Homo sapiens: one gene and its partners. The protein of the gene in region 1 interacts with the protein of each later gene in a pairwise test. Each region holds a gene or a part of one and is shown in the gene's direction. Other genes may lie near its edges. The genes, in order: THBD, PHF24, AIG1 and SLC19A3.

Region 1 (7,093 bases):
GAAAATCACCCTGGAGAGGACAAAGAAACATCTACCACAGGTGCTCCAATAAGCTCTGGGCACTGTCTAGTTACAAAGCGTGCTGTTAGGTGTAAGGGGATACAAAAATGTGTGGGAATCTGGAGTATAAGTGCAGCAAAAAGTGTGGTATATGCATGATTAGGTACAGGGCAGGGAGGGAGTGGTGAGTACTAAAGAGCTGAGAGAACGACCTGTCTATGGGAATCACAGACAGATCAGTTCTGGTTGGGTTATTCAGAAAACTTGCTGATGGGGAAGCTTGAACTGGGACTTGAAAGAATGGAAAGATTTCAGTGGGTGAAGAGCCTGGCAGACGAGAATGTTGCTAGCAGAGGGAGAGACATGAACTACAGGGTGGAGATGAGCGGACAAGGTGCTTCTCTGACAGTGAGCAGGAGCCTCCCTTGCCAGGATGTTTCCTCATTCATGGAGACCAGCAGAACACTGGTCCTTGAAGCCTTGTGAGGTGCAAGGGGTGCAGGCTCTGGGTCCAAATTCCAGCATAGCCCCTTGAGTGCAAATTTTCTCATCTGTGGCCACAGAGTAGAGGCACTATCGCGAGCATCTTCAGTGCGGAGGGGAAAGAGTATGGGCTCTCCCAGCGGGTGGGAGCAGCACTGAGGGAGTATGAGGATCAGAGTAGCCTCAGCCACGGTGGAGAGCTGGAGAGATAAGCAGCAAGGAAAAGAGCTGGGGACCCAACTGTCTCAGCATAAATTGAGAAGGCAGGAGCAGTGATCAGGGGAAACAAGACACAAAAACTAGGCAGTGGATGAAGGAGAGCAGAAAGTCAAAGGCAAGTGCATGGTTTAAAACCTCAGTGGACCAACTATTGATACTGGGAAAGATGGGGTAAGGGTCCCTTCTAGAATACTCCCTCCCCAATCTCCTTGGACACTGCTATCACTGCCAGGGGAATGGGTAAGTTCACCAAAAGGTGGGTTGTAAAGAGATGATGAAGACCACCAGCAAAACCTTGAGAATGGCCACTCTAGTGGGTGGTACAAGAGGATCCCAGGGGCCTCCCCAAGGCTCACAGGAGAGGAAGGGAGGAAAACATGTGTCTCAAAAGTAATTGGAGGAGGAGCCTTGAGAATGGTGAAGGGTCACAAGTGCAAATGGCACCAAGGCTTCTAGAAGGATGGCTGAAAACAAGATTTTGGCAACAGTATTTAGGACCAGATGGGTGTTCTTCAAGGGAGCTGTTTCAGGAGTAAAGCAAGTCTGCTGGTGGGCCAGAGTGAGGGTGCTGGGCCAGGAACTGGGCCAAGCATTGGGAAGTGGATGTGTTATCTGCAAAGGGATAGGAAGGAGTGGCCCACCCTGGTGTGCAGGGGGCACAGATAGGAAGATAGGGATGGGGCAAGAACACAGACAGGGGACCTTCAGTCACCAGAAGGTAGTCTAAAATATGCAAAGCCTCCAAGGTATTGGCTGGAGAGGAAAAACAAAGCGGCTGAGGGCAGGCCCCACAAGGCAAAGGTATCCTGAGGGTCAGGGGTAAAGCCCTTACAGGTGGGAAAGCCAAGTGGGTCATGTCCACCCATCCTTGTGTAGGGCAACCCAGACACTGTGGTACCCCCCATGGGACAATGCTCTGCTTCTATCTGTTGTTGCTCTAGTTTCTTTCTAATACAGAAACATCCAACATCTGCACCTCCTCATATAGGGTTGATCCAAGTTTCACAGACATCACTGAGTTCTTAGTGGACTCAGCTATTGGGGCTGTTCTCACACTTTTTTTTTCTTTGCAAGAATCAGCAATGGGTGCAAGTGGACCTGTGTAGGACGTCCAGTGAAACATTGTGTTGGTGAATCAGCTAGAATCCATCCAAGAACTCAGCCAGCCTGGTGTGGGGTGAGATCTGATCCTTGAATGTCCCTCAGTGGCTTTTAGGGCTGGCAGGTTCAGAAGGGCCCTCTCATCACCCCCCCAGGGCCTCATTCCTTGTTTAACACTTTGCTATCACAGTCTTGAATCCTTGTAATTGAACAATGGACCCCACATTTTCACTTTGCACTGGTTTCTGATTCTGTAACCGATCCTGTCCCCCTCTCTTGTCTCATTCACTCTGGGAATTGTCCCCACATTCTGAGACCTTTCAGCAGTGCCCCAACGAGGTTCCTGCCCTTATCTGAAGCTCCACCCTCACCCCCATGGCGGCACCGCAGGCAGCCCTGCTTTTGCGTCCCGCGTAGGCAGGCTGTGCACCGGAGTCACGACCCCCTGATTCAGCCTAGGCAGCCACAGCTTGACTGCTCCCGCCGGACAAGCCCTACTGTGCTATCTGCCGCTCTTCCCTTCCTCTTCCCAGGGGGTCCGCGTCAGGGGAGGCGCAGCTGTGTGCATTCCGGGAGCTTCAGACCCCCGTGTCCAGCAGCTCCTTCGTTTCCTGGGTGCTGGGGCGGCCTTCCCAGCGAAGAGCTCAACTCAGCGGGACGTTTGGAGGCTCTCTGCCCCAAGGCGCTGGGGAGTGTGCGGCGGGACAGTCGTGCTTGCCTTTTTCACTTTCAGAGTGTCCACGCCCCACCCGTTTGGTCACTGCAGGTCAGTCCAGTCCAGCCCGGCCCACCCCACCGGTGCGTGTCTGTCGCACGTGGCAGACGCCATACTCTCTGTTCTTGTTTAAAGCCCAGGATCTACTGGGCCCTGGAGGCAAGAGGTGAACGCAGCGGAATCCACGCTGAGCTGCCCGGGAACGGAGCTTCCAACCCCAGAAGGAGGACTCTGTGCTCCTACACCTTAACCCTTTTTAGCCCGAAACTTCTCCAACTTCCTTGGCTTTGTTTAGAGCTCGACAGCGCCGCCCCCTGGCGCTCGTTGTGAGGACAGTAGAGGAGAGAGGCAAGGGTGTTTTTAAACAGTTTGCCTCTCACCATTATGGGGGCGACCCGAGGGGGAGACCCACTCTTCCGCATTCCCGGTAAGTGAACCACCGGAAGAGGTCGAAAGTGACGGATTCCCATGTCCTCCTCCAGCCCCCCCCCCACCCTGCCCATCCACAGGACGGTGGCTCTTCAGTGCCCTTTGCCGAGCAAGTGGCGTTTCTATGCACGTGGGTATCAATTCGGACTCTGGACGAAATGGAAACCTCCTTAGCCGACCCGGGTGGGATCAGCTGGGATCCTGCGCGCTCCCCTGGGGGGTTGCCAGCCACTCTGTTGGGGTGCAAGAAGCACCATCCTTCGGAAGCTGGGCCGAAACTGGCCAGGCTGACTCGCTCCCACGCGCCCGCCCCTACCCGGCGCCGCAGCAATTCACCTGCCACCGCCTCTGAGCCGGGTCCGGACTTCGGCGCCCTGACAGTGTCCCCGCGACTTCCCCACCCGATGAGATGGGGTCTGGCGTTGGCCAGTGCGTGTCCAGGGACTCGCGGGTCCCTGGCCAGCCATGGGGCAGAGGGCGCTGGTGTTAGGCCAGTCTTCCCCACCCTGCCCCGTCACCCCAGCCACACCCACTGTCCTGTGAGGCCAAGCGCGCTCCGCTGGTTTCCTGAGCCAGGCACCTTGGCCGCGGACAGGATCCAGCTGTCTCTCCTTGCGATCCTGTCTTCGGGGAAGTCCACGTCCTAGGCAGGTCCTCCCAAAGTGCCCTTGGTGCCGATCACCCCTCCCAGCGTCTTGCAGGTCCTGTGCACCACCTCCCCCACTCCCCATTCAAAGCCCTCTTCTCTGAAGTCTCCGGTTCCCAGAGCTCTTGCAATCCAGGCTTTCCTTGGAAGTGGCTGTAACATGTATGAAAAGAAAGAAAGGAGGACCAAGAGATGAAAGAGGGCTGCACGCGTGGGGGCCCGAGTGGTGGGCGGGGACAGTCGTCTTGTTACAGGGGTGCTGGCCTTCCCTGGCGCCTGCCCCTGTCGGCCCCGCCCGAGAACCTCCCTGCGCCAGGGCAGGGTTTACTCATCCCGGCGAGGTGATCCCATGCGCGAGGGCGGGCGCAAGGGCGGCCAGAGAACCCAGCAATCCGAGTATGCGGCATCAGCCCTTCCCACCAGGCACTTCCTTCCTTTTCCCGAACGTCCAGGGAGGGAGGGCCGGGCACTTATAAACTCGAGCCCTGGCCGATCCGCATGTCAGAGGCTGCCTCGCAGGGGCTGCGCGCAGCGGCAAGAAGTGTCTGGGCTGGGACGGACAGGAGAGGCTGTCGCCATCGGCGTCCTGTGCCCCTCTGCTCCGGCACGGCCCTGTCGCAGTGCCCGCGCTTTCCCCGGCGCCTGCACGCGGCGCGCCTGGGTAACATGCTTGGGGTCCTGGTCCTTGGCGCGCTGGCCCTGGCCGGCCTGGGGTTCCCCGCACCCGCAGAGCCGCAGCCGGGTGGCAGCCAGTGCGTCGAGCACGACTGCTTCGCGCTCTACCCGGGCCCCGCGACCTTCCTCAATGCCAGTCAGATCTGCGACGGACTGCGGGGCCACCTAATGACAGTGCGCTCCTCGGTGGCTGCCGATGTCATTTCCTTGCTACTGAACGGCGACGGCGGCGTTGGCCGCCGGCGCCTCTGGATCGGCCTGCAGCTGCCACCCGGCTGCGGCGACCCCAAGCGCCTCGGGCCCCTGCGCGGCTTCCAGTGGGTTACGGGAGACAACAACACCAGCTATAGCAGGTGGGCACGGCTCGACCTCAATGGGGCTCCCCTCTGCGGCCCGTTGTGCGTCGCTGTCTCCGCTGCTGAGGCCACTGTGCCCAGCGAGCCGATCTGGGAGGAGCAGCAGTGCGAAGTGAAGGCCGATGGCTTCCTCTGCGAGTTCCACTTCCCAGCCACCTGCAGGCCACTGGCTGTGGAGCCCGGCGCCGCGGCTGCCGCCGTCTCGATCACCTACGGCACCCCGTTCGCGGCCCGCGGAGCGGACTTCCAGGCGCTGCCGGTGGGCAGCTCCGCCGCGGTGGCTCCCCTCGGCTTACAGCTAATGTGCACCGCGCCGCCCGGAGCGGTCCAGGGGCACTGGGCCAGGGAGGCGCCGGGCGCTTGGGACTGCAGCGTGGAGAACGGCGGCTGCGAGCACGCGTGCAATGCGATCCCTGGGGCTCCCCGCTGCCAGTGCCCAGCCGGCGCCGCCCTGCAGGCAGACGGGCGCTCCTGCACCGCATCCGCGACGCAGTCCTGCAACGACCTCTGCGAGCACTTCTGCGTTCCCAACCCCGACCAGCCGGGCTCCTACTCGTGCATGTGCGAGACCGGCTACCGGCTGGCGGCCGACCAACACCGGTGCGAGGACGTGGATGACTGCATACTGGAGCCCAGTCCGTGTCCGCAGCGCTGTGTCAACACACAGGGTGGCTTCGAGTGCCACTGCTACCCTAACTACGACCTGGTGGACGGCGAGTGTGTGGAGCCCGTGGACCCGTGCTTCAGAGCCAACTGCGAGTACCAGTGCCAGCCCCTGAACCAAACTAGCTACCTCTGCGTCTGCGCCGAGGGCTTCGCGCCCATTCCCCACGAGCCGCACAGGTGCCAGATGTTTTGCAACCAGACTGCCTGTCCAGCCGACTGCGACCCCAACACCCAGGCTAGCTGTGAGTGCCCTGAAGGCTACATCCTGGACGACGGTTTCATCTGCACGGACATCGACGAGTGCGAAAACGGCGGCTTCTGCTCCGGGGTGTGCCACAACCTCCCCGGTACCTTCGAGTGCATCTGCGGGCCCGACTCGGCCCTTGCCCGCCACATTGGCACCGACTGTGACTCCGGCAAGGTGGACGGTGGCGACAGCGGCTCTGGCGAGCCCCCGCCCAGCCCGACGCCCGGCTCCACCTTGACTCCTCCGGCCGTGGGGCTCGTGCATTCGGGCTTGCTCATAGGCATCTCCATCGCGAGCCTGTGCCTGGTGGTGGCGCTTTTGGCGCTCCTCTGCCACCTGCGCAAGAAGCAGGGCGCCGCCAGGGCCAAGATGGAGTACAAGTGCGCGGCCCCTTCCAAGGAGGTAGTGCTGCAGCACGTGCGGACCGAGCGGACGCCGCAGAGACTCTGAGCGGCCTCCGTCCAGGAGCCTGGCTCCGTCCAGGAGCCTGTGCCTCCTCACCCCCAGCTTTGCTACCAAAGCACCTTAGCTGGCATTACAGCTGGAGAAGACCCTCCCCGCACCCCCCAAGCTGTTTTCTTCTATTCCATGGCTAACTGGCGAGGGGGTGATTAGAGGGAGGAGAATGAGCCTCGGCCTCTTCCGTGACGTCACTGGACCACTGGGCAATGATGGCAATTTTGTAACGAAGACACAGACTGCGATTTGTCCCAGGTCCTCACTACCGGGCGCAGGAGGGTGAGCGTTATTGGTCGGCAGCCTTCTGGGCAGACCTTGACCTCGTGGGCTAGGGATGACTAAAATATTTATTTTTTTTAAGTATTTAGGTTTTTGTTTGTTTCCTTTGTTCTTACCTGTATGTCTCCAGTATCCACTTTGCACAGCTCTCCGGTCTCTCTCTCTCTACAAACTCCCACTTGTCATGTGACAGGTAAACTATCTTGGTGAATTTTTTTTTCCTAGCCCTCTCACATTTATGAAGCAAGCCCCACTTATTCCCCATTCTTCCTAGTTTTCTCCTCCCAGGAACTGGGCCAACTCACCTGAGTCACCCTACCTGTGCCTGACCCTACTTCTTTTGCTCTTAGCTGTCTGCTCAGACAGAACCCCTACATGAAACAGAAACAAAAACACTAAAAATAAAAATGGCCATTTGCTTTTTCACCAGATTTGCTAATTTATCCTGAAATTTCAGATTCCCAGAGCAAAATAATTTTAAACAAAGGTTGAGATGTAAAAGGTATTAAATTGATGTTGCTGGACTGTCATAGAAATTACACCCAAAGAGGTATTTATCTTTACTTTTAAACAGTGAGCCTGAATTTTGTTGCTGTTTTGATTTGTACTGAAAAATGGTAATTGTTGCTAATCTTCTTATGCAATTTCCTTTTTTGTTATTATTACTTATTTTTGACAGTGTTGAAAATGTTCAGAAGGTTGCTCTAGATTGAGAGAAGAGACAAACACCTCCCAGGAGACAGTTCAAGAAAGCTTCAAACTGCATGATTCATGCCAATTAGCAATTGACTGTCACTGTTCCTTGTCACTGGTAGACC
Region 2 (7,025 bases), on another chromosome or scaffold:
TATCCACTCCACCCCTCAATCTTAATGACCAAATTCTGACAGGAATTGCTTGCCAGCTTTGGACCAAGAAACCAAGACCATCAGTGTCCAGCTGAAGACATGATTATTTTTTCCATTAGCACATCCCCCTCCATTCTCCCCACTCTTCCAGCAATCCCCTCAGAGACTCACTTACATTTACTAAGTGCTACTTACTTGCCAGGCACTATGCTAGATAAATATGAGAGTTTCTTGCCCTTGAGGAGTTCACATAGAATCAGTCTGCATTTCTCTAATCATTCACTATAAAGAGTAGGAAAAGTAAGGGGGAAATTATGGCATTACAGAATATCCACAGGAACCAATATAGAGTATGCCTTTTCCCAAGCATCACTGAAACTCAGCTGCTGTGCTATGCCTCCTCTGGCAGCCACATTCAGCCCTCCTGCCAGTGCCCTGCCAAAATTACTTTTGCCCATATACTCTGAGTGTAAACTGACCACATTTTTGCCTTCCTTATGATAGTAATGACAGAACCTTTTATTTAGATAGCATGTTACAGTTTATGAAGCCCTTTTAGATATATGTTGGCTGTTTGGTTTTGAGAAATGCTTCATCTTACTGGGGTCCTCTCACTGAAGCAGAGCTGTGTGGGCTAATTGGCTCTCTCTCTTTTTGTATGTTTGTTTTTTTGAGGCTTAGGAGTCTCCCAGAGGGAAAGCCCCAGTGATTCACTACAGTCACCACCTACGAGCTCTTAGGTTGCGAAGGAGTTTCCTGTTGGGTCCTAAGGCCAAACAATGCACTCACTGGTCAGCGCTGGAACTTATCAGGGCAGTCCCTCTTCCTGGCCTCAGCAAATCCAATTCTCTGGGATTTTCTTCCTCCTTGAAACTCAAATACATATTCTAACAAATATTTTAAGCATACTATCTCAAACCAGTTCTTTGGGCTGATGCTAATTCTTATGTGAAGACACGTTTCCTTGCCTATTTCTATCTAGCCCCCAGGCTGGCTTCATACCATCTAAGTCATGATGGAGTCCCCATATAGCTCCATGCCTTGGCATGTGCTGTTACCTCTTCCTGGAATGCTTTTTTTTTTTTTCCTTATCCACTGATGTAACTCCTACTCATATTCAAAATTTAGCTCAAGCAACACCTTTTTTTTTTCAATCCTACACTTATGCCCCCTGCACACGCACATACTCACTGCATTCTCACAGGCTGAATGAGCTTCCATTTGTTCATTCTACCATCAGTTATTAAGCACCTGATTTGTGCCTGACGCATAGTAGGCTGTACTCGGCGAAAGTTTGCAGAATCAACAGAGAAGTAAATGGTGATAATTAAGGTGTAATAATTGCATTACATGGGGCTGAATCTGTGTTTCAGGGAACCAGAGCAGAAAACAGGGAGTGCCTCTCCATCTTGCTGAAAAGCTCTGCTTGCTAAGTGCAGTCTCACCAGCCAATCACTGATGGTGTGATGTTCCTTAACTGTTGCTCTGCCTCTGTGGGAAGTCAGCACTGTGGCTTTTAATGAAGACTCAGGCCCTAAGAGGCTAAGCTCATGCCATAATTTTGCTCTCATCTATATTAGAACTTTGTGAGCTTTCAGTAAATATTAAACAGCAGCAGGATGCCTTGTAGTCTTGAGCTGAGGCCAGAAAGACAGTTTTTCTGTCTAGCCTTTCTGTTCCTTGGAAACCCCAGAAAAGCCCCATGTAGTTGTGACTGTCTCATCCTGAATAAACAGGCTGAATGAAGAGAGGTGGGGAGGTACCAGGTAGACCTTTCAGGGTCTACAAACATGAATACTAAAATTAGTTTCTAGGCTACTGCCAGGTGACAAAATGTCTGAGTAGGAACAGGCTCCAAGAGCACTGTAGTGAGGCACTGGAATTTCCTAAAGCAACAGCCAGTCACTGGAGAACAATCGGACCCCTCGGGGCTTGGATTTCCTCAAAGACCCGCACGAGAACTCTTTTTGATGGTTTTTTTTTTTTTTTTTTTGCTTAAAATCTTGAGGTTGATGCTGATGTTCACAGTAAGCTCAGAGTCTGTGCTATGCATTCAGCGTTTGTTTTGTTTTTTTACAGACCCTGGTTGTGTTGATTTTCCACACTCTTGCAGCTGGTCACCTTCTGTGTTAGGCATATGGCTTTTCCTAAGGCTCTCAGCCCTTTGGGCACATGCTTCCAGGAGCCAATTGTTGACCACCTTGAAATTTTTCACTTGTATGTGCAGATACTGCTCGTGCTAAATTTCAAACCCAGGACAAAGGAAGTGCATTTTCACACTTTCTACTTGTGTCCTTAAGGCAACTGCCCTCCTGTGGGCCTCACCATAGTCCACAGGACACAGCATAAATGCAGGGGACTGTTGACTTTGGTAATACTGGCTTCTCTTTTCTTACCATTGTGATTGTAGAAACCGGCTAAATTGCAGAATTTCTTAACTCTCCTCTGTAGTCAGAGAGAAATCATCCTCGTGTTCTCATCCCTGCTAGCCCTGACTCACTGTCCAGGTGCCACCTCTTGGGAAGTAGAGTAGATGTGATGATGTGAGCTGGTGACTGCATAGTTTCTAGAATTGAGTTTTGGAGATTTGGTCTCATTAGTCTCTGGCCAATTTGATAAAGAGAAAAGACACTATGATCTTAAATAAATTGTTTATGTTGCCCAGTCATCTCTGCATCATTCATTCAACAAAGATTTAAGAGGCTAAAACCCTTAATGCTTAATGGAGATGATCAAACCTGTATACAAAAGACACTTTAATTCACATGCTCTGTGGAAGTCAGTAAGAACCATCTCTACTTTTCTCCCTCCTGATCTCAGTGAAACACAGATTCCTTTACTCCACTTGCTCAACCTATTCTCTTTGGTTGTCTTTCCCTTTCCCCTCACTCAGAGGTTTTCTTTGCCTTGTTCCTTCCTAGGGAAGCCCTAACCTCCAGGCAGCCACTTTTACTTGCTTGTGAGCCTTTTAAATAGCCTCCATCCCCATACCAAGAATCAGATTGAACCAGCTACTCGGGAGGCTGAGGCAGGAGAATCACTTGAGCCCAGGAGTTTGAGGCCAGCCTGGGTAACATAGTGAGACCCTAGAACCACCCTCCATCTGAAAACATAAATTTTAAGAAGAGAAAATCAGTAAATGTACTTTACATTTAACAGGCTGCATGAGGAAACTCCTGCCTATTAGGAGTGTTGCCCTTCAGGCTCTCCACAGCTCTGAATCTTTATACAGAGTGCTGGGAAATAGAGGCTCCCCAGCTTCCTTCCCCTTCCTTATTTCTCTATCAGCTCCTGCTCCAGAGCAGCCCCTCCTCCTCTTACTCCCACCACTTTGCCCTTATTAATAATCCCGCTGAATTCTAAGCAGGTGCTCTGCAGAAAATGGGTGTGTCTTGCAAACATTACAAGCTGCCCACAAATGTCTTACTGCCTGACAAACACATCTAGACATGCTTCTCTTACCCAAGACAGATTCTACTTGTTGCTGTTTTCATTTCTTCCAGTTCATGAAGTCAGACGGCCCTATTCCACCTTCTTGTCCCGCTGTTATATACCATCACCTGCTCCTCTCCCCTGAGTTTTTTTCCAGGCCTTCCCTAGATACCACAAATTCCCTGACAGCCACATAATTCTTGGGACAATATCTTTTTGGCCTCTTTTCGTCATTTTTAGGGAGGCAGAAACCCCCAGTCCCACCCACCAGCGAAAGAAGTAATCATTAGGTATAATTTGTGGGATCTTTGCAACTTGATTTCCTTTTAACTCTCTCTTTTTCCTAGGACTTATTCCAGCACAGGAGAGGCCAGGTTTTTATCCACAAGCATTTGTTTTTACCTGGCACCAATCACTACCACTTGTTTCTCTAAAAATTTGAGCTGATTTTGTTAAGTTCTCAAACATCCCAGGTGCACTTTTTGGATATTTCAGCACACACACTTTTAATCAAAGTGTCTTTTGTATACAGTTTTGATCCTCTCCATTAAGTATTAAGAGTTTTAGACTCGCTTTTAAAGCTGAATTCTGTTGTGTCTTCACAGTTTACTGTCAAAGTCAAAGTCATGTCAATTCAAAATGACTTGATGGTCTTGTTTGGATTTTGATGGTTTACTGTGAATAGTTCTACTTTGCATTTCTGCCCTTACAGGCATAAAATGGTCTACAAGATTGAACCATCTCAGCTAAAAGGAATAGCAGTGCTCCAAGAGCCTGTGCTTAGGACTGGAAAGCGTTTGTTTTTATGTTTGTTTTGCTAGTAGATGTCAGCTTCAGTCTTCATAGAAATTGCTTTAAGGATAAACTCCCAAAACCATTGCAATGACATAGTTGACCATGGAGATAGCTTCATAGCTATTCTTGGTATCCTTATAAAGAATAATGGTATCCTTACAGTTAATAATGGGTTGTAGCGGATCTACAGTGTGTTGGGAGGTGTCTGTGATTAATTTGATGATTCTCTGTTAATGAGTAAGTTCATTTATAGAGTAACTTCCTAACTGGCTGGTCTTTGTTCAATAACTTTTATTAAAGCATCTGAAAAAGCCAAAAACAAAGGCATACCATTGGTTTTCCTCTAATGAATCGTTCTTGAAAATGTGAATTTAGTATTTTTTTTCCAGATCTCCAAATAAGTGTTTCTCAACTATTTTTTTCCAGTGTTTATCAGACCTTCTGATAAACATAAAAGTCTCTTGACTGTTCCCTAAAACTTGTGATATAACTCCTGGGAGGAGGCTGCCTCCAACTATTTGGAGAGTTAGTACCTTCCGTATAGCCCTAAGAACAAAGAAGATACTGTCAAACTCACTGTTTTGTAGTCTATGTCACACACACAAAAAAAGCAGAGATGGTTTTTAATACTTGTTTTCCAAATATAAATACATAATTGATAAGCTCTTGAAACTCACTTATTTCTCCCCTCCTCCCGGAGTTTCTGATATACACCTCCCACCTGCCACAGGATCCAGCCAATTCACCACTTGAGAATCATTGCTCTGGTTGTTGTGTTTAAAAAATTAAATCAAGCTGGGCACTCTGGCTGGAACCTATAATCCTAGCTACTTGGGAGGCTGAGGCAGGGAATCACATGAGCCCCAGAGTTATCAACAAGTCTGGGCAACATACCAAGACCCTGTCTCTTTAAAAATTTTTCAAAAATTAGCACGACCTGTAGCCCCAGCTATGTGAGAGGATTGCTTGAAATTTTTCAAAAATTATCAATCATGACCTGTAGTCCCAGCTATGTGAGAGGATTGCTTGAGTGCAGGAGTTCGAGACTAGCCTGGGTAATATGGCGAGACCCCCCCCCTCGCCCCATCTCAAAATAAATAATTAAATCATTTTTTCTCTTTTTTAATAGCATGAATATATCACAAGTTATTCAGTAATTTCCCTATTGAGGTTGTTTCCACCTTTTTTCTTTTTTAAGAGACAGGGTCTCACTGTGTTGCCCAGGTTTCAGTGTAGTGGCTATTCACAGGCACAGTCATGGCACACTACAGACCCAAACTCCTGGTCTCAAGCAATCCTCATGCTTCAGCCTCCCGAGTAGCTGGGATTATAGGAGCAAATCACCATGCCCAATTTCTTTCCATCTTTTTAATCACTGTAAAAAGAATGCTCCAATCAATCATTTTTTTTTAATGTGATGAGGTATTGCTATGTTGGCCAGGCTGGTTTTGAATTCCTGGGCTCAAGCAGTTCTCCCACCTCAGCTGCCCACGTAGCTGGGATTACAGGCATGTGCCACTATGCCTAGCTAAATTTTTTTTTTTTACATATACCCACAGGTGAAAGAGCATCAGCCTCTTGGATACAATAGGTTTTCTTTAGTCAGAGGTATATTAGTAGCTGTCCATCTCTGGTGGATCTTCCAACCACACAGACTCCTAAGAGAAGCTTGAATAAACTGTTCATCTTTCACCACATCAGTTAAGGGCAGCACTTTCCTTATATCCTTGTCTTTTAGAGGTGCGTTCTTCAAATTGCAGATTTAAATCCATTAGTAGGTCATGAAATCATTTCAGAGAGTCACTATCAGGGTTGTTTTAATGAAATAGGATAGAAAATATCAGGGAGCATCACATGTAGTAAAAGTATGATTGTTCCACAAAATTTTGACTTCAGTTGCAGATCTATAAACACATGTGTCTACAGGGTTATCACAAAAAATATATTTCTTACTCTGAGCCACAGTTGAAAGTTTTGAGAAACATGCCTTGGGGTTTCTGAGGAAAACCTAGTGGTCTGGAAAATGTAATTGCTCATAATAAAAATATGCTCAAATAAAAATATGAAGAATTATCTGTCAGTTTTGTATTTTCTCTCTTGGGGTACCTCTGTCACTGTAAGTTGGGGAGTTGCATCCCACCCAGCCATCGAACACGCTGTTGCCCATGAGGCATTTGAGCAGCATCTGGGGACTACAGGGCCAGCCCTGTCACTTCAAGAACCCACTGGGTCCAAAGCCTCAGCAAAAAATTTAACATATACATACTCTTCTCTCCATCCCCACCCCACCCTGGCTAGATTCCCTCATTAGATCATATGAACTTTTAAAAGAAGATGAAAAACAACATGAGCATTCTAAATGCTTCAGACTATATGTTCCAAATACACTCATTAACAGACAGAGAACTAAAGCCCAAAGCAACCAGCAACAGGTTCTGAATCATAGAACAGGGGACCCAAAACAAAAACAAGTCATCAAGTTGCCAACCCTAGGATTTGTTTTATTATCTAATTAATGTGCAATGTGGGAGAATTGGAAAATATAGATTACAAAAAGATTAAAAGTACATACAGTACAAAAATTAGATCATAACATGAGCATTTTTGTAACTTGCTATTTTTGTTAATATGTTTGCATATTTTGAGTATCTTTCCCACCAATAAATATACTTCTACCTCAGTGTTTTCCGTGTTGTTTAGTCTTTCGTGGTACGTAATTTATTTCCCTATTGCTTAATATTTGTTTCCAGCTAATGAAAAAAAGATTTCTTAATCACAATTTTTTATGAATTTATTTG
Region 3 (7,471 bases), on another chromosome or scaffold:
ATTTGAAAAAGCTGTAATAAGCATCAATTGTAAGGAAAAAAAAGAGTAATTTTTACCTACTTCTTTCTCTTAATCTTTCCCAACTGCCCTCCAGGGTAAAAGAACTCTGTCACCTCAGTTCATATAAACAAACATGAACAACACACAGTAGGTTCTAGAAGTGTAGTTTCTTAATTGGTTTTGAGTTCCATATAATCCTAAAAAGTAGCTTTCTCAATTCAAAATACAGACATTACTGTGTATTTAGTGGTGAAAACTTTAAAAGAACATAAATATCCAAAAAGAAAAAAAGTTTAAGCAAAATATATGTCCATATGATGTTGTGCTATGCAATCATTAAACATGAGTTTTACAATGTTTTAAATAGGAGAAAATTGCTATTAAACTTGAGGCAGAAGAAATCTCTGTGATGCAAGTTGTTATATAGTATGTCACAATCAGCTAACTCTATATTGTAAAAGACTTGCAGGAATATGCTAAAATGTTCATTGTTTTCTCTGGGTGGAGAGAGTGGGGAAAATGTTTTTTTAAAAGTAGCGTTTCCATTTTAGTATCATAAATACGCTACATTTATAATGAATAAAAATAATTCAGAGGTATCTTTTCTGTAATACTGAAGACTTTTTCCATGCCCAGGCCTCTGAGGGGGACATGTCCTAACTTTCACCCTTGAAGTACAGATAAATGGGGAGAAAAAATTTGTTCCAAATATATTGATATTGTTAGAAAATGCTTATCTCATGTAAATGCAGAACCAAAGGAAATGTGTAAATATCGAATACTGCAAGGATATGTATAAACACAATTCTTCCTCCTGAACTTTTAAGCAACGACCAATAGTTACATAAAGTTGGCTTCTTGGAATACAATTTAAGGGTGACATAGGAGTCCCAGTCATTTCCCAAATTAACAGGTATTATCATCAGTATGTCAGACAGACATCCTCCCTGATACGGTTTGGCTGTGTCCCCACCCAAATTTCATCTTGAATTGTAGCTCCCTTAATCTCCACGCATTGTAGGGGGGGAACTGGTGGGAGGTAATTGAATCATGGGGGCAGGTTTTCCTGTGCTGTTCTTGTGATAGTGAATAAGTCTCAGGAGATCTGATGGTTTTATAAAGGGCAGTTTCCTGCACACACTCTTTTGCCTGCCACCACGTAAGATGTGACTTTGCTCTTCCTTTATCTTCTGCCATGAGGGTGAAGCCTCCCCAGCCATGTGGAACTGTGAGTCCATTAAGACTCTTTTTCTCTATGAATTATCCAATCACAGGTATTTCTTCATAGCAGTATGAAAATGGACTAATACACCCCCCCTCCAAAAGAAAAAAAAGGAATGAACAGTCTGTCTCAATTATTAGAAGTACTTAAGAAAGGGTATCTTCAGCCCCATATATAGTCTAAGAAATATTACAACAATCAAAGAATATAGCTTGAAGCTAAAACGGGTTCTTGAAATCTTCCCTTGGTGTTTCTTATGTTTACTGCTATTGATGAAATTCAACTGGATGAGGCTTTTCTCCTCCAGTCTCACTAACTGTGTAGTAGAATGAAAAAGATAAAAAAAAAGACATGCAAATATTTCTTCTATACATAGAAAACAGTATTATCTAAATCAAATATGGAATCATCATAAGAATACTTAGAAGTGAATAATGTATTATAGTTCATAAAAAGTAATAACTTACCTAATGAAGTTTTAAAAGCAATTGTTTACGCTGTAAAAACACAATGTGTGTAGATTAATATTTTCCACAAAAGTTATCTGTAAAACATGACTAAGATTGTTAGATATGGTCTGAAAAGCACAGAAAGCAAGCCTGGACATGTTAATAGTTATCAAGAAGTTCCAAAAATTGTGAACTGACATTCTCATAAAATAGTATTTGAGTCAAGTTTTATACAAACGCTTCATTTTTTTAAAGCACAAAACTATCTGATCATGGTTGGCAAATCATGAAAAAACAAAAGCAAACCCAGCAGAATAGGTTCTAAATACTTAATTAAGAGTTATAGTTATTTATTTAAAAGAAACTGGTCGGGCGCAGTGACTCACACCTGTAATCCCAGCACTTTGGGAGGCCGAGGCAGGTGGATCATTTGAAGTCAGGAGTTCAAGACCAACCTGGCCAACATGGTGAAACCCCATCTCTACTAAAGATACAAAAAAAATTAGCCAGGTGTGGTGGCATGCGCCTGTAGTCCCAGCTACTTGGGAGGCTGAGGCAGGAGAATAGTTGAACCCAGGAGGCAGAGGTTGCAGTGAGCTGAGATCATGCCACTGCACTTCCGCCTGGGTGACAGAGCTAGACTCTGTCTCACAAAAAAACAAAAAGAAAAACAAAACAAAAAACCTGACCATTAAAAATGGCTTTATGAAAATATTATTTCATTTTGTAACAATGGGGTTGGGGAGTCTTAATAATTGTCTAACATGTAAAGTAGGAAGGGTATATCAAACTTTGCAAATATCACATTAACTCATAAAACTTTATTAAGGCTCTATTGAGAGGTGAGGCCAGCTGGACCTCCTGAGACAAGTGGGGACTTGGGGAACTTGCCTGTCTTACAAGAGGAGTGTAAAATGCACCAATCAGCGCTCTGTAAAAAGCACCAATCAGCACTCTGTAAAACACACTAATCAGCACTCTGTAAAACGCACCAATCAGCAAGATTTTAAAAGTAGCCAATCGCAGGGAGGACTGAAAAAAGGGCACTCTCATAGGACAGAAACAGAACACTGGAGAGGACAATAAGGGAATAAAAGCTGGCCACCCCAGCCAGCAGCAGCAACCCGCTCCAGTCCCCTTTCATGCTGTGGAAGCTTTGTCCTTTCACTCTTCACAATAAACCTTGCTATCGCTCACTCTGGGTCTGTGCCATCTTTAAGAGCTGTAACACTTACCACCAAGGTCTGCCGCTTCATTCTTGAAGTCACTGAGACCACTAATCTACCGGCAGGAACCAATTCCAGACACATTATTAAGGTAGGTAGATCTTCAATAGATCTACTCTTTTTTATTTTTATTTTTTTGGCAGTTTATAACCATGTACCAAGGATGCACAATTAAAAAAATAAAGCCAACTTTTACATTAAGATTTAACCAAAAATCATCAATAATACATCGTTTTAATGCTAGTAGAATCTTCTTCTGACATCAGTTCTATTAGCATAATTATAATGCCAATTAAAAAAATCTAGTGGGTCTCTTCATTTTAGTTTAGAGCTTGATTGGAAACATTCAGGAAAACATCCATGGCTTGCTTGCTACTTTCTCTTTACCTCTAGCACTATGCTTCTCCCCACCAGCCCTCCCTCCACATCCTCTGACTCAGAGACTATTTGAAGAGGACACCTGTTTTAAATGGATCCACAGGAAATACCTATGTTGCCTTTTCATAATCCGAACCTGCAACTGGTTGGCTGAAATGAAAATGTTGCCCACAGACTGATGCAACTTCAGTGTGACAACATTTACTGGAAGGCAGGAGGGACTCCAGTTTATATTTATTTTCCTTCCATTAAGCCCTGGTAGTGTAGTGTAAGAAAAAAGTAAGGGCAAAACCAGTTTAACAACCAGATGATTAGTATTAAATTACACGCAGGGGTTTTACATCCAAAATTGGAATTTTTTAAAGCTGAATGCAATCTTGTGGCAGAAAGTTATTTGAAAATCCTTTCTTTATAGCTTTTTATCTATAAACCTCTTGTCCAAAGTTCATATTCTAGCTGATGTTATATACTGATATGACATTATTCAATCTGTCATGGAAAAGTGCTGCGTAGCCTACCCATTGAAAGCAGAATTGAGAGAGTTTCCTAGTGATTGACAGTCGTTTGTCAACACTGAAAACCTTATTGCCCCAAAATACTGAAAGTCACTCGCGGCTGCCTGTGCTCGGGTTTACACCCCACGTTCACACCCCCACCGGATCCCTCCGCACGGGGCACCAGCTCTCGGCCAACTGCAACTACCCCAGGAAGCGTCACCGCGATTCCGGGGCGGGAACATTTGTGGACACTGGGGTCCACTCCTTCAGTCTAGGTTCCCCGCCCCCTCGCCCGGCCCGGCGCCCACTAGCCACAGGGCCCGCTTCCCCCTGGAGATCAGCGCGCACTTCCCGAGCCCTCGTAGCACTCAGAGGTCGCATCCACACCTGGGATGCCTAGGGGGCGCCTCCTGGCCGGGTGTCCCGGGACCCTGCGAACGCAGGAGCAGAATGACGAAGGTGACGAAAGAGATGACGACACGCCGCCTGCCAGGCCGCGGCCGGCAGTGGAGAGCGTCCGCAAACCGCGCCCGGCCAGTACAGGTCACCCGGGCGCTCGCGGCCGCGCCAGTCCCCGGGGGCGCGCGCCCCGCCCCCGCCCCCGCCCCCGCCCCGCCCCGCCCCGCGCCCGCGCCCGCGCCCGGGTTCCCACGGCGCCCGCCCCCGCGCGCCCGGCGCCTCCCTCACGCCCGCCCTCCTTGCCGCCCAGCCGGTCCAGGCCTCTGGCGAACATGGCGCTTGTCCCCTGCCAGGTGCTGCGGATGGCAATCCTGCTGTCTTACTGCTCTATCCTGTGTAACTACAAGGCCATCGAAATGCCCTCACACCAGACCTACGGAGGGAGCTGGAAATTCCTGACGTTCATTGATCTGGTAAGGCCGTCCCCTCCCCCTGCTCGCCCCGCACCCCGTGCCTGTGTGTGCGTGTGTGTGTGTGTGTGTGTGTGTGTGTGTGGATGCGCGAGCACCTGCGCACGTGCGCGCCTCCAGCATCCACCCGTGTCCTCGCCTCTTCCCCAGTGATTGCGTGTGAAGGCCTGGCTGCCCCCGCAGCGGCACCTTCTGAACCACTCACCGTTACCTGGTAGCTGGGTACCCTTACCTGGCAACTGGGGGACAAATGGAGGTGGGGCGCAGCCAGGTGGTGGGCTCTTTGGAGGGGGACACCGAACTGCTTCTAAGAGGTGACACGGGAAGAATCTTCAACAAAAGCATCGGACCTGATCCTGAATGGCCTGAGACCCATTCGCCCTCAAGGTGCTTTTCAGAGCACCCACCGTGGGATGAACTTGTTGCAACTGAAGGAAACTGGGTATTGTCTAGTGATTTGGAACTTCACCTGAAAGAACCAAATCCTTCTCATAAGGGAGAGAAAGCACCTAATAAAGTTGTCTTCTTTGCATCTGTTTTTTTCCCCCATTGTCAATAATTTACTTTCAACCTTTACCCCGTACATATTAGGAGACAGAGATGTTCAAAGTGCATTTCCAAGGTGACTGTACACACTTCTCTGTCTTCCCATGTACAAATTTACAGTAGTTTGCATAAGCAGCTCCTCTGTTGGCACAATATGATAATCTTGACAGGTGCAGGTTATTATTAGTATATCATTTTGAAAGTTTTTCTATTTCTGGCACTAAAAGGCCCTCTTCAACCTCCCTGGAGAACAGAACATGGGCATAAGGCCCAATAATGAACTCATGGATGGACCTAGGAATTTCAGGGTAAAGGTGACTAAGACACACGCTAAAAGATTATTAGGAAGAGGCTTAAAACAAAAGCAATGAAGTTCTAAAGCACTCAGAGAAATTGTAGAACCAATTCCTGGGACTCCCTGAACTGTTTATCCAAGACTATACAGTTGGTTGGCTACACCAGCAAGATTATAATCTCTTGTTGACCCTCCATTCTGATGAAGAGAACATGATACCTGTTTTAAAAATTTCCAAAGGCTTAGGATGCCTCAAAGAAATGCAGAGAGGCTTTTGGTTTAAAAATAACACCTTATATTTGCATTATATTAGATACTTTCAGAGTGGAATTTCAATTCTGTTGCCCAGCAGTCTCCAAACTGTGCACATACCCTTAGGCCCACAAGACTTCACAGGGTATAGAATGTTGCAAGGGTTTTAATTTTCAGATCCTCATCTTCCAACTCTGCTTGAAACTAATTTCCCTCTGAACATGCGTGATGCCTGCCAGTTCTCCTTTCATTCTCCCCATTCATCCAAGTGAGGAGCCCGTGACAAGACTCTGAGGTGTGCTTTTCTGTCTGTTCCTTTTAGCTTCCAGAAGATAGATGGTTGTCACCAGGGCTATCTTTATATTTGATTGAACAACAATGTCGGAGTTGCCTTGACAGAAAGTCTTATTGGGTTGATTGGCTTGTCAATGAGGATTGGCTTTGCCAATTATGTTGTGTAGCAGACATTTTCTGTATACTGAATGAGCTAAATCTGCAACCCTGAGGTTCTGATGCATATGTATATGAAGCAAGCATACCACCCATAGAGCGCCAGAAAGATGTCCCTTTTTCAAGTGTTTACACTTAACTATGTTAAGGATGTTGAGATGTTATTTAAAAATATGTGCATAGATTTTCAGAATTCTTTGAGGGGCTATGTGAGCAAAACTCCTTTTGGGACACTGCCTTATCCCATTCCTAAGTCAGATCTTACTTAGAGCTGGCCTATTTGAATGTTGCTAAAGAGCAGTGCTGGGCAAGAATACAGAGATGCTGTGGGAGCCATAGGTTCTAGAAACAGCCCTCAGCATCACTCTTGCAGTAGATGCTGTGTTGTGGGAGCAAGGCAGGGGTCAGCAGGTGAACAGAGGTAGAAATTGAGGGTGTTGGTTAACCCAAGAGATGCCTGCTTTTCATAATTAGCATTGCTTACTGTGCATTGAAAAACAAGGCTCAGAAGAAATGATATACCTCTCATAACCTTTGTGTGACATGAAACCATAGTAGAGTCAGCTTGATATGCTGTCATATAATTTATCTTTTAGCATTCAATGATTGGACTTGCCTGTTTTAAATACTAATCACCATACAGGACTTTTTCTATCCCAGAAGTCAGACAGTAGATTCAAATGTGAAACATTTACTTTGCTTCATATTTAGCTTCAGATTGTATAGGACCTTTAGCCAGCGTTGTAATTTTTTACTCTGTGGCTCCTGATTGAAACATAATAATTATCTTTAACAAAGAGTGCCTGTGAGAAAGTATGTCTGAGATATATTCATAAAAACATTCATGCAAAGTGTTATTCTTTTTATTATTTGAGATTTAGAATCCTTAGAGCTTAAGCATTGTACAGCTGTTAAAACAACCAACCTGTCAATCCTCAGTAATGGCATGAAATGATTAGGCTACTATAATTTAGCCATTTTACTTTTCACTTTTAATGTTAAAAAGACCGTAAACTTTATTACCTAGTGCCTTGTACAATATTAATGAGTCTAAGTTTATTGGAGTAATTTTGCAAGAGTTTAACTTTTTAAAATTGTAATGTGAAGGCCCTTTTTTCTAGCCAACTTGGATTGCAGGAATCATTTATCCTGATAGCCACAGTTGGATTCCATATTCCATGGCTTCAGTTTACCAGGATCTGAGTCAGGAATCTCAGGCTCTATGCATCCAGGAGCAGATGATTATGTGGCAGTGGCCATTCTGGCTGTATTCATTTCTCTCCTTGG
Region 4 (7,231 bases), on another chromosome or scaffold:
AAGAGATGAACGAGAAATACCCACAGGTGTGGAGAGGCTGGCCCCCTTCAATCTACCAGCCTGGCTAAACACATTATGGGAGGAGGAAGAAGAGGAATTCTGCTGAAGGACAATAAAGGATCAGGTACTGAGATTAATTTGTAAGTAGTTCTCTTTGACTGTGAGAGGGTCTATTCAAGTGTGGTTACATTCTTACTCTTACAAGGAGGGGAAGGAAAAACCATAGTTCCCCTTGGTGGGTCTAGATCTTAGGCAGACAGAAGACTTCAGCTTCTTCAGAAGAGACCTTGTCGGGGAGATCAGACAGACCCTTAGGCTTCTGCAGTTCGGTATCTCAAGGCACTGTATTTTGTGTTATCGGTTTATGAGCTCCAACATCTGCAACTGATTTATGATTGGGAGTGTTGGATGGTCCCAGTACGGCAGGTCACAGCTTCTCTCCAACTCTCTATGTGTTTTTTACTCATTCACTCAGCAAATATGTGGCTGCTCTATTAGGCCAGTTATCCAGCCAAGATAGAAATCTAAAGATAAGGCCAGGTGCGGTGGCTCACACCTATAATCCCAGCACTTTGGGAGATCGAGGCGGGCAGATCACCTGAGGTCAGGAGTTTGAGACTAGCCTGACTAACATGGTGAAACCCTGTCTCTACTAAAAATACAAAAATTAGCTGGCCGTAGTGGCAGGTGCGTGTAATCCCAGCTACTCGGGAGGCTGAGGCAGGAGAATCCCCTGAACCCAGGAGGCAGAGGTTGCAGTGAGCCAAGATCGACCCATTACACTACAGCCTGGGCAACACAGTGAGACTCCATCTCAAAAAAAAAAAAAAAAAAAAACTAAACAAATATTTGCCTTCAAAGAGTTAACATTTAAGAGTGAAACAGATAAATTAGCCTACTTGCAGTAATCCTAATGTGAGATTTTCTTTGCCTGGCCACCTTTTCTCCACTCCTATATCAACTATTCAAATAGACTTTTTTTTTTTTTTTTTTTTTTTTTTGAGACAGAGTCTCACTCTGTCACCCAGGCTGGAGTGCAGTGGCGTGATCTCGGCTCACTGCAACCTCCACCTCCTGGGTTCAAGCGATTCTTCTGCCTCAGCCTCCCAAGTAGCTGGGATTACAGGGGTGTGCCGCCACGCCTGGCTAATTTTTGCATTTTTCGTAGAGATGGGGTTTCGCCATGTTGGCCAGGCTAGTCTCGAACTCCTGACCTCAGGTGATCTACTCACCTGGGATTACAGGCGTGAGCTACCATGCCTGGCCTTGTATAGGTTTTCATGGACATAATTGCAGCCACATTTTTTAGTAACAGTGCAAGAGGAAGTATAATAGGGAGGTACACAGTGTTGAGCAACTCCCTAATACACTATGGCTCCCTCTCCTACTGTTCTCATTCAGCCTCCCTGTAGGTTCTTTCCCAAGTTGGAGCTCCAAGCCTCAGGCTTAGTCATCTTCTCCATCCTCTTCTCAGTGGGATCCACGGCACTTACCACTTTCTAACACACTATAAAATTCACTAACTCATCATGTTTACTATTTATGTTCCCTCTATATACCCCATCCCAAGCTAGAATGTAAATTACAAGGCAGAGATTTTTAGCTTTGTTCACGAATGTATCCCAAGCACCTAGGACAGTGTCTGGCACATAGTTACTCAATAAATAACTTCTTAATGAACAAATGATTTTTTTTTCTTTTTTGTGTATGGGTTTATTTGAGACAGGGTCTGGCTCTGTCACTCAGGCTGGAGTGCAATGGTGTGATCTCAGCTCATTGCAACCTCCACCTCTTTAGGCTCAAGCCAATCTCCCACTTCAGCCTCCCAAGTAGCTGGGACTACAGACGCATGCTACCACGTCTGGGTAATTTTTGTATTTTTGTAGAGACAGGGTCTCACTGTGTTGCCCAGGCTGGTCTTGAACTCCTGGGCTCAAGCGATGCACCCACCTCGGCTCCCCAAAGTGCTATATTACAGGCATTAGCCACTGTGCCCAGTCAGAATAAATGATTTTAAAACAATTTTGTATTATGGAAAATAAACATATACAAAAATGGAAAATAGTGCAATCAGTTTCTAAGAACTACTGCCCAAGTCAACAATAATCAACACACAGCCAATCTTTTGTCATCTATGACCCCATCCACAGCCTTCTCCCCACACAGTCGTATGGGATCAAACTCAAATGTCATGTCATGTAATCTGCAAATGTGTCATTTATGTTTCTATGCATGAATGAATGAATTCCTCAATATCTCTCTCTGATTTAGACTGTGGCTATGAGATATTAGAGAATCAGAGTAAACTTCTCAAGGTCCAATTTGAACTCATTTTCTTCAAGAGGTGTGAAGGAAATCATGACACCTTCAGCCTTTAAGAAAATTTCACAATATTCTTTGGGAGGACCCAGCAATTTGCAAGGTTGCACAATGAGCAGGGCACTCCTACACCTAAGGTTCAGCTCAGGACTTTTCACAAATCATAGGAAGATGAAAATAGAAAACGCAGAGTCGTAGGACAGAGAACCAAGACACCTCGGGGTGTTTTAATCCATTTCACTTCCACTGGTAGCCCTTAGAAGCCACGCAGTGTTTATCTTTAGGGAGGGTTTTTCAAGTCCACCAAGAGATGAACAGAAATAAAAATATTTTTTCCATTTTAACCAATAAGAACCTTGTAATGCTTTAAAAAAATTCTCTGTTTAATAAGAAGTTTCACTTTAATATATAAACTCTTTGCAGGCTAAGCGTAGTGGCTCATGCCTGTAATCCCAACACTTTGGGCGGGCAAGGCAGGAGGATCCTTTGAGCCCAGGAGTTCAAGACCAGCCTGGGCAAGATAGTGAGACTCTGTCTCTACCAAAAAAAAAAAACAAAAAAATTAATGTGACGTGGTGGCACCCACCTGCAAGCCCAGCTACTTGGGAGGCTGAGGCAGGAGGATCAGTGTGCCTGGGAGATTGAGGTTGCAGTGAGCTGGGGTTGCACCACTGCACTCCAGCCTGGGAGATAAAGTGAGACTTTGTCAAAAAAAAAAAAAAAAGAAAGAAAGAAAGAGAAAAGAAAAGAAAAGAGGCCAGGTGGCCGGGTGCTGTGGCTCACACCTGTAATCCTAGCACTTTGGGAGGCCGAGGCGGGTGGATCACCTGAGGTCAGGAGTTTGAGACCAGCCTGGACAACATGGTGAAACCCCATCTCTACTAAAAATACAAAAATTAGCTGGGTGTGGTGACGGGCGCCTGTAATCCCAGCTACTAGGGAGGCTGAGGCAGAAGAATTGCTGGAACCCGGGAGGTGGAGGTTGCAGTGAGCCAAGATCGTGCCATTGCACTCCAGCCCGGGGCCAACAACAGCGAGGCTCCATCTCAAAAAAAAAAAGAAAGAAAGAAAGAAAGAAAAAAGACCAGGCGCGGTGGCTCACGCCTGTAATCTCAGCACTTTGAGAGGCCGAGGCAGGCGGATCACGAGGCCAGGAGTTCGAGATGAGCCTGGCCAATATGGTGAAACCAAACCCCGTCTCTACTAAAAACACAAAAATTAACTGGGCGTTAATTTTTGGAGGCTGAGGCAGGAGAATCGCTTGAACCCGGGAGGCGGAGGGTTGTAGTGAGCCGAGATCGCGCCACTGCACTCCATCCTGGGCGACAGAGGGAGACTCTGTCTCAAAAAAAAAAAAAAGAAAGAAAGAAAAGAGAAAAGAAAAGAAAAAGAAGAAGAAAAGAAAAAATTGTTTGTATCAGATTTTCAAAGTGCCAGGAAACCATCCCACTCTACCTCCTTTAAAAAAAAAAAGTGCAGAGTGATTATAACCACTGGCTCTGGAGCCAGGAGCCCCAACTAAAACCCAGGCTTCTCTATTTACTAGGCCTACTTCCTTCCGCCTCACTTTCTTCATGTGTAGAGTGGGGGTGACAGCCAGCCAGCCCTCTCTCCTAAGCTTTTGGAGAGAAATAAATGGATTCATAAGAAAGGACATATTTGTAAATAAAGCAAACGATCGCTGTTGGATTCAGGCCCTCTTGCTTCATTATGCTGAATGTCAGTGTATTACTTAAGTTGTTCCTTTCAGCAGAGTTGACTGTTTCTGCCCAGAAAACCGGCCCTGGGCCAGGAAAATCTGGGCTTCCACACTGGGATGAAAGGTCTGGACGCCCGGATTCGCATATGCAAAGCGTGGGGGCGTGGCCCCGGGCTCCGGGCCAGGCAGGCTCCGCCCCCTTCCCACCAAGAGCGCCTGGATCCATCCGACAGCCGCGGGTGCGTGGTCGTGCGGCAAGTGAGCGATTTGGTGAACAGACACTCCCTTCTGTAGGTAAGAATATCTCGGGGGGCGAATTAATTGAAGAAGCACCGTCATCCCTCGGTCTTAGCAGTGTCGCCTCTCTCTTCCCGGGTTTGGAGAGCTGGGGGCGGGTTCCTGGCTCTGCGGGCCTGGGCTACACTCTGAGCCGCGTGAGGAGCTCTCCCCCTACGCCGCAGCCCGCGTGCTGGGATTCACCCAAGTGGGTTTGTCTGGAATTCCCATTTGCAGCCTTCTGGAAGCGCAGATTAAATAAAATCATGATTCCCGTAAAGTGCCAGCACCTCCTATGGTTACATCCCACGTTCACAGATTTTAACTGAAAAGGCATTTTAGCATAGAATTCCAAATTCCAATCCAAGGATGGAGAAAAGGTCCTTCCTAGTGGGAAAAAGGAAGGTGAGTTTGAATTTAAGAGAGCAGGGGCTTTTTTGGGAACCACTTGAAATTTAGTTAATTGAAACTAAAAGAAAACGCAACTACACCTTACAAAAACACTGCTGGAAAGGATACCTAAGTCATCAAATAATAAATAGTGTGACAGCTGTTTACCAAATCAATGTCGCTGCCGCAAATGTGCAAAAGGTTGGGACTTTCGGAGTGCTTCAAGTTTGAAAAAGGTAAAGGAATAATGTTTTCTAAAAGTACTCTCAGGCCAGGCGCAGTGGCTCACGCCTGTAATCCCAGCACTTTGGGAGGCTGAGCGGGGCGGATTGCTTGAGGTCAGGAATTCGAGACCAGCTTGGCCCTGGGATGAAACCCCGTCTCTACTAAAAAGGCAAAAATTAGCCGGGCATGGTGGCGGGTGCCTGTAATCCCAGCTACACTGGAGGCTGAGGCTGAAGAATGGCTTGAACTTGGGAGGCGAAGGTTGCAGTGAGCCAAGATTGCACCACTGCACTCCAGCCTGGGCGACCCAGCAAGATTCTGCCTCAAAAAAAAAAAAAAAAAAAAAAAAAAAGCACTCTCATGTGTTTTGCTCCTATCAATATTGAAACATTGGTGTCTCCTGTGGCAAAAGGTGTTTTTTTCATCGAGGCACATATATTAAATAGACCAAAACATAACTTCCCAAATATCTTATAAGATTATCCTAGTAGTAGCTGAAATGGACAAAAATACCAATTTCCTTCAGTCATTATTGCTAATAGACCAACAACACTCTTTTAAGGTTGTGTAATGGTAAATGCATACACATTTATTTAACATGCACACAGGGAGAATCAGAGTGATTGATTACCCACCCTGCAACATGTCTCAGAAGCTTATAGACTACCCTGGCAAATGAGGTTACGGGAGGGAGCCGAAGAGCATCCAGCAGAAGTGGATGGGCTTCTGCTAGGGAGCATGAATGGGTCAGGGGAGAGAATAAGCTACATTATCTTGTGAATGGGTCTGTTCAGGTGTGGGGTATATTCTTGGTCTTACAGGGAAGGGAAAAGAAACAGTTGTTCCTTTTGGTGGGTCTGGATCTTAGGCAGACAAAGGTTTTTTTGAGCTGGGAGCCGGGAAGGTCAGAGAGACCTTGAGGTCTCCAGCATGTCAAAGCCCCATATTTTGGGGTATCGGCTTCTGAGTCCCGGCACTTATTAGTGACGAAACTGATGAGTCTGTAGTAGCCAGATCAAAGAAGAACCCAAAGAATGGGTACATTCGTAGATCAGGAATATTGAATAATGAAATATAGATCAGGAATATTGAAACTGGTTTTCCATGGGGGAAAGGAAGACTGTTGTCCTTCATGGGATAAACCTTATTTGCATGTCTATAGACAATAATTACTTAACATTGCCATCAGTTGTTAAAATTTACAGAGTTGTAAAATAGCTCAAATGACCTCTAATTTTTCTTTAATCCAGTTTTTTCCCTACAACACCACCTTCTCTCAGTGCATTTAATCAGAAACTTTCACTGCATCTCAAGGATTAGATGTCAGCTGACTTTCCTTTTTTGTTTTGTTTTGTTTGGGGTTTTTGAAATTTTTTTTTTTTTTTTTTTTTTTTGAGACGGAGTCTCGCTCTTGTTGCCCAGGCTGGAGTGCAGTGGCTGGGATCTCGGCTCACCGCAGCCTTGACTTTCCCTGTTCAAGCAATCTTCCCACTTCAGTCTCCCAACTACCTGGCACTATAGGCACACACCACCATGCCTAGCTAATTTTTGTATTTTTTATAGAGGTGAGGTCTCGCTATTTTGCCCAGGCTGGGCTCAGTTGACTTTCTAAGCCGTTTTATGTTTTTCTTAGTTTTATGGTTTTCTTAGGCATATTCCTCCTGCTCTCCCTAAGACTAGATTGATCTGAACATAGACATAACAGAATAAACAGAATTTGGAAGGAAATGATTAATTTACCAGCAAACACCTCATGCAAATTAAAAGGAATGGTACCATATATGATAAAATAAAATCTGAAGCATCTTAAAGATCACTTGGGCTGGGTGCGGTGGCTCACACCTGTAATCCCAGCACTTTGGGAGGCCAAGGCAGGCGGATTTCTTGAGGCCAGGAGTTCAAGAGTAGCCTGGCCAACATGGCAAAGCCCCATCTTTACTAAAAATAAAATTTTAAAAATATCACTTGTTTCTGCTCTTACAAAAACAAACAACAGAACTATTCTGGCCCACATACTGAATATCTGGGTCTAGTTTACGTCTTTGGAAGTTGTGTGGCATGCTTTATTTCAGCAAAGATTTTTTTTTGGGGGGGGTGTGGGGTTTGACATAAAGGATTATAGATGGGTGATAAGGCTACTTTGTAGTTTTTTGAGAGTCTAGGTCACTTAGCACAAAATTCTATAGAAGCTAAATTAGGTGACTTTAGTAAGAATAGTCAGGGCAAGGCCAGGCACGGCGGCTCACACCTGTAATCCCAGCACTTTGAGTGGCTGAGGCGGGTGGAGCACTTGAGGTCAGGAGTTCAAAACCAGCCTGACCA

Evidence for each region.
Region 2: the proteins of THBD (region 1) and PHF24 interact in binary tests that used the Homo sapiens proteins (3 or more experiments, as listed by UniProt).
Region 3: the proteins of THBD (region 1) and AIG1 interact in binary tests that used the Homo sapiens proteins (3 or more experiments, as listed by UniProt).
Region 4: the proteins of THBD (region 1) and SLC19A3 interact in binary tests that used the Homo sapiens proteins (3 or more experiments, as listed by UniProt).

Annotation. Positions count from the first base shown.
Region 1 is NC_000020.11:23,046,671-23,053,763, reverse strand, and holds the start of THBD (thrombomodulin precursor), read left to right. Parts: upstream 1-4,091; 5' UTR 4,092-4,259; coding exon 4,260-5,987; 3' UTR 5,988-7,093. UniProt on the Homo sapiens protein: Endothelial cell receptor that plays a critical role in regulating several physiological processes including hemostasis, coagulation, fibrinolysis, inflammation, and angiogenesis.
Region 2 is NC_000009.12:34,961,285-34,968,309, forward strand, and holds part of PHF24 (PHD finger protein 24), read left to right. Parts: intron 1-7,025.
Region 3 is NC_000006.12:143,056,423-143,063,893, forward strand, and holds the start of AIG1 (androgen-induced gene 1 protein), read left to right. Parts: upstream 1-4,466; 5' UTR 4,467-4,503; coding exon 4,504-4,644; intron 4,645-4,791; coding exon of another isoform or gene 4,792-4,794; exon of another isoform or gene 4,795-5,173; intron 5,174-7,471. UniProt on the Homo sapiens protein: Hydrolyzes bioactive fatty-acid esters of hydroxy-fatty acids (FAHFAs), but not other major classes of lipids. Show a preference for FAHFAs with branching distal from the carboxylate head group of the lipids.
Region 4 is NC_000002.12:227,715,024-227,722,254, reverse strand, and holds the start of SLC19A3 (thiamine transporter 2), read left to right. Parts: upstream 1-4,226; 5' UTR 4,227-4,312; intron 4,313-7,231. UniProt on the Homo sapiens protein: Mediates high affinity thiamine uptake, probably via a proton anti-port mechanism. Has no folate transport activity. Mediates H(+)-dependent pyridoxine transport.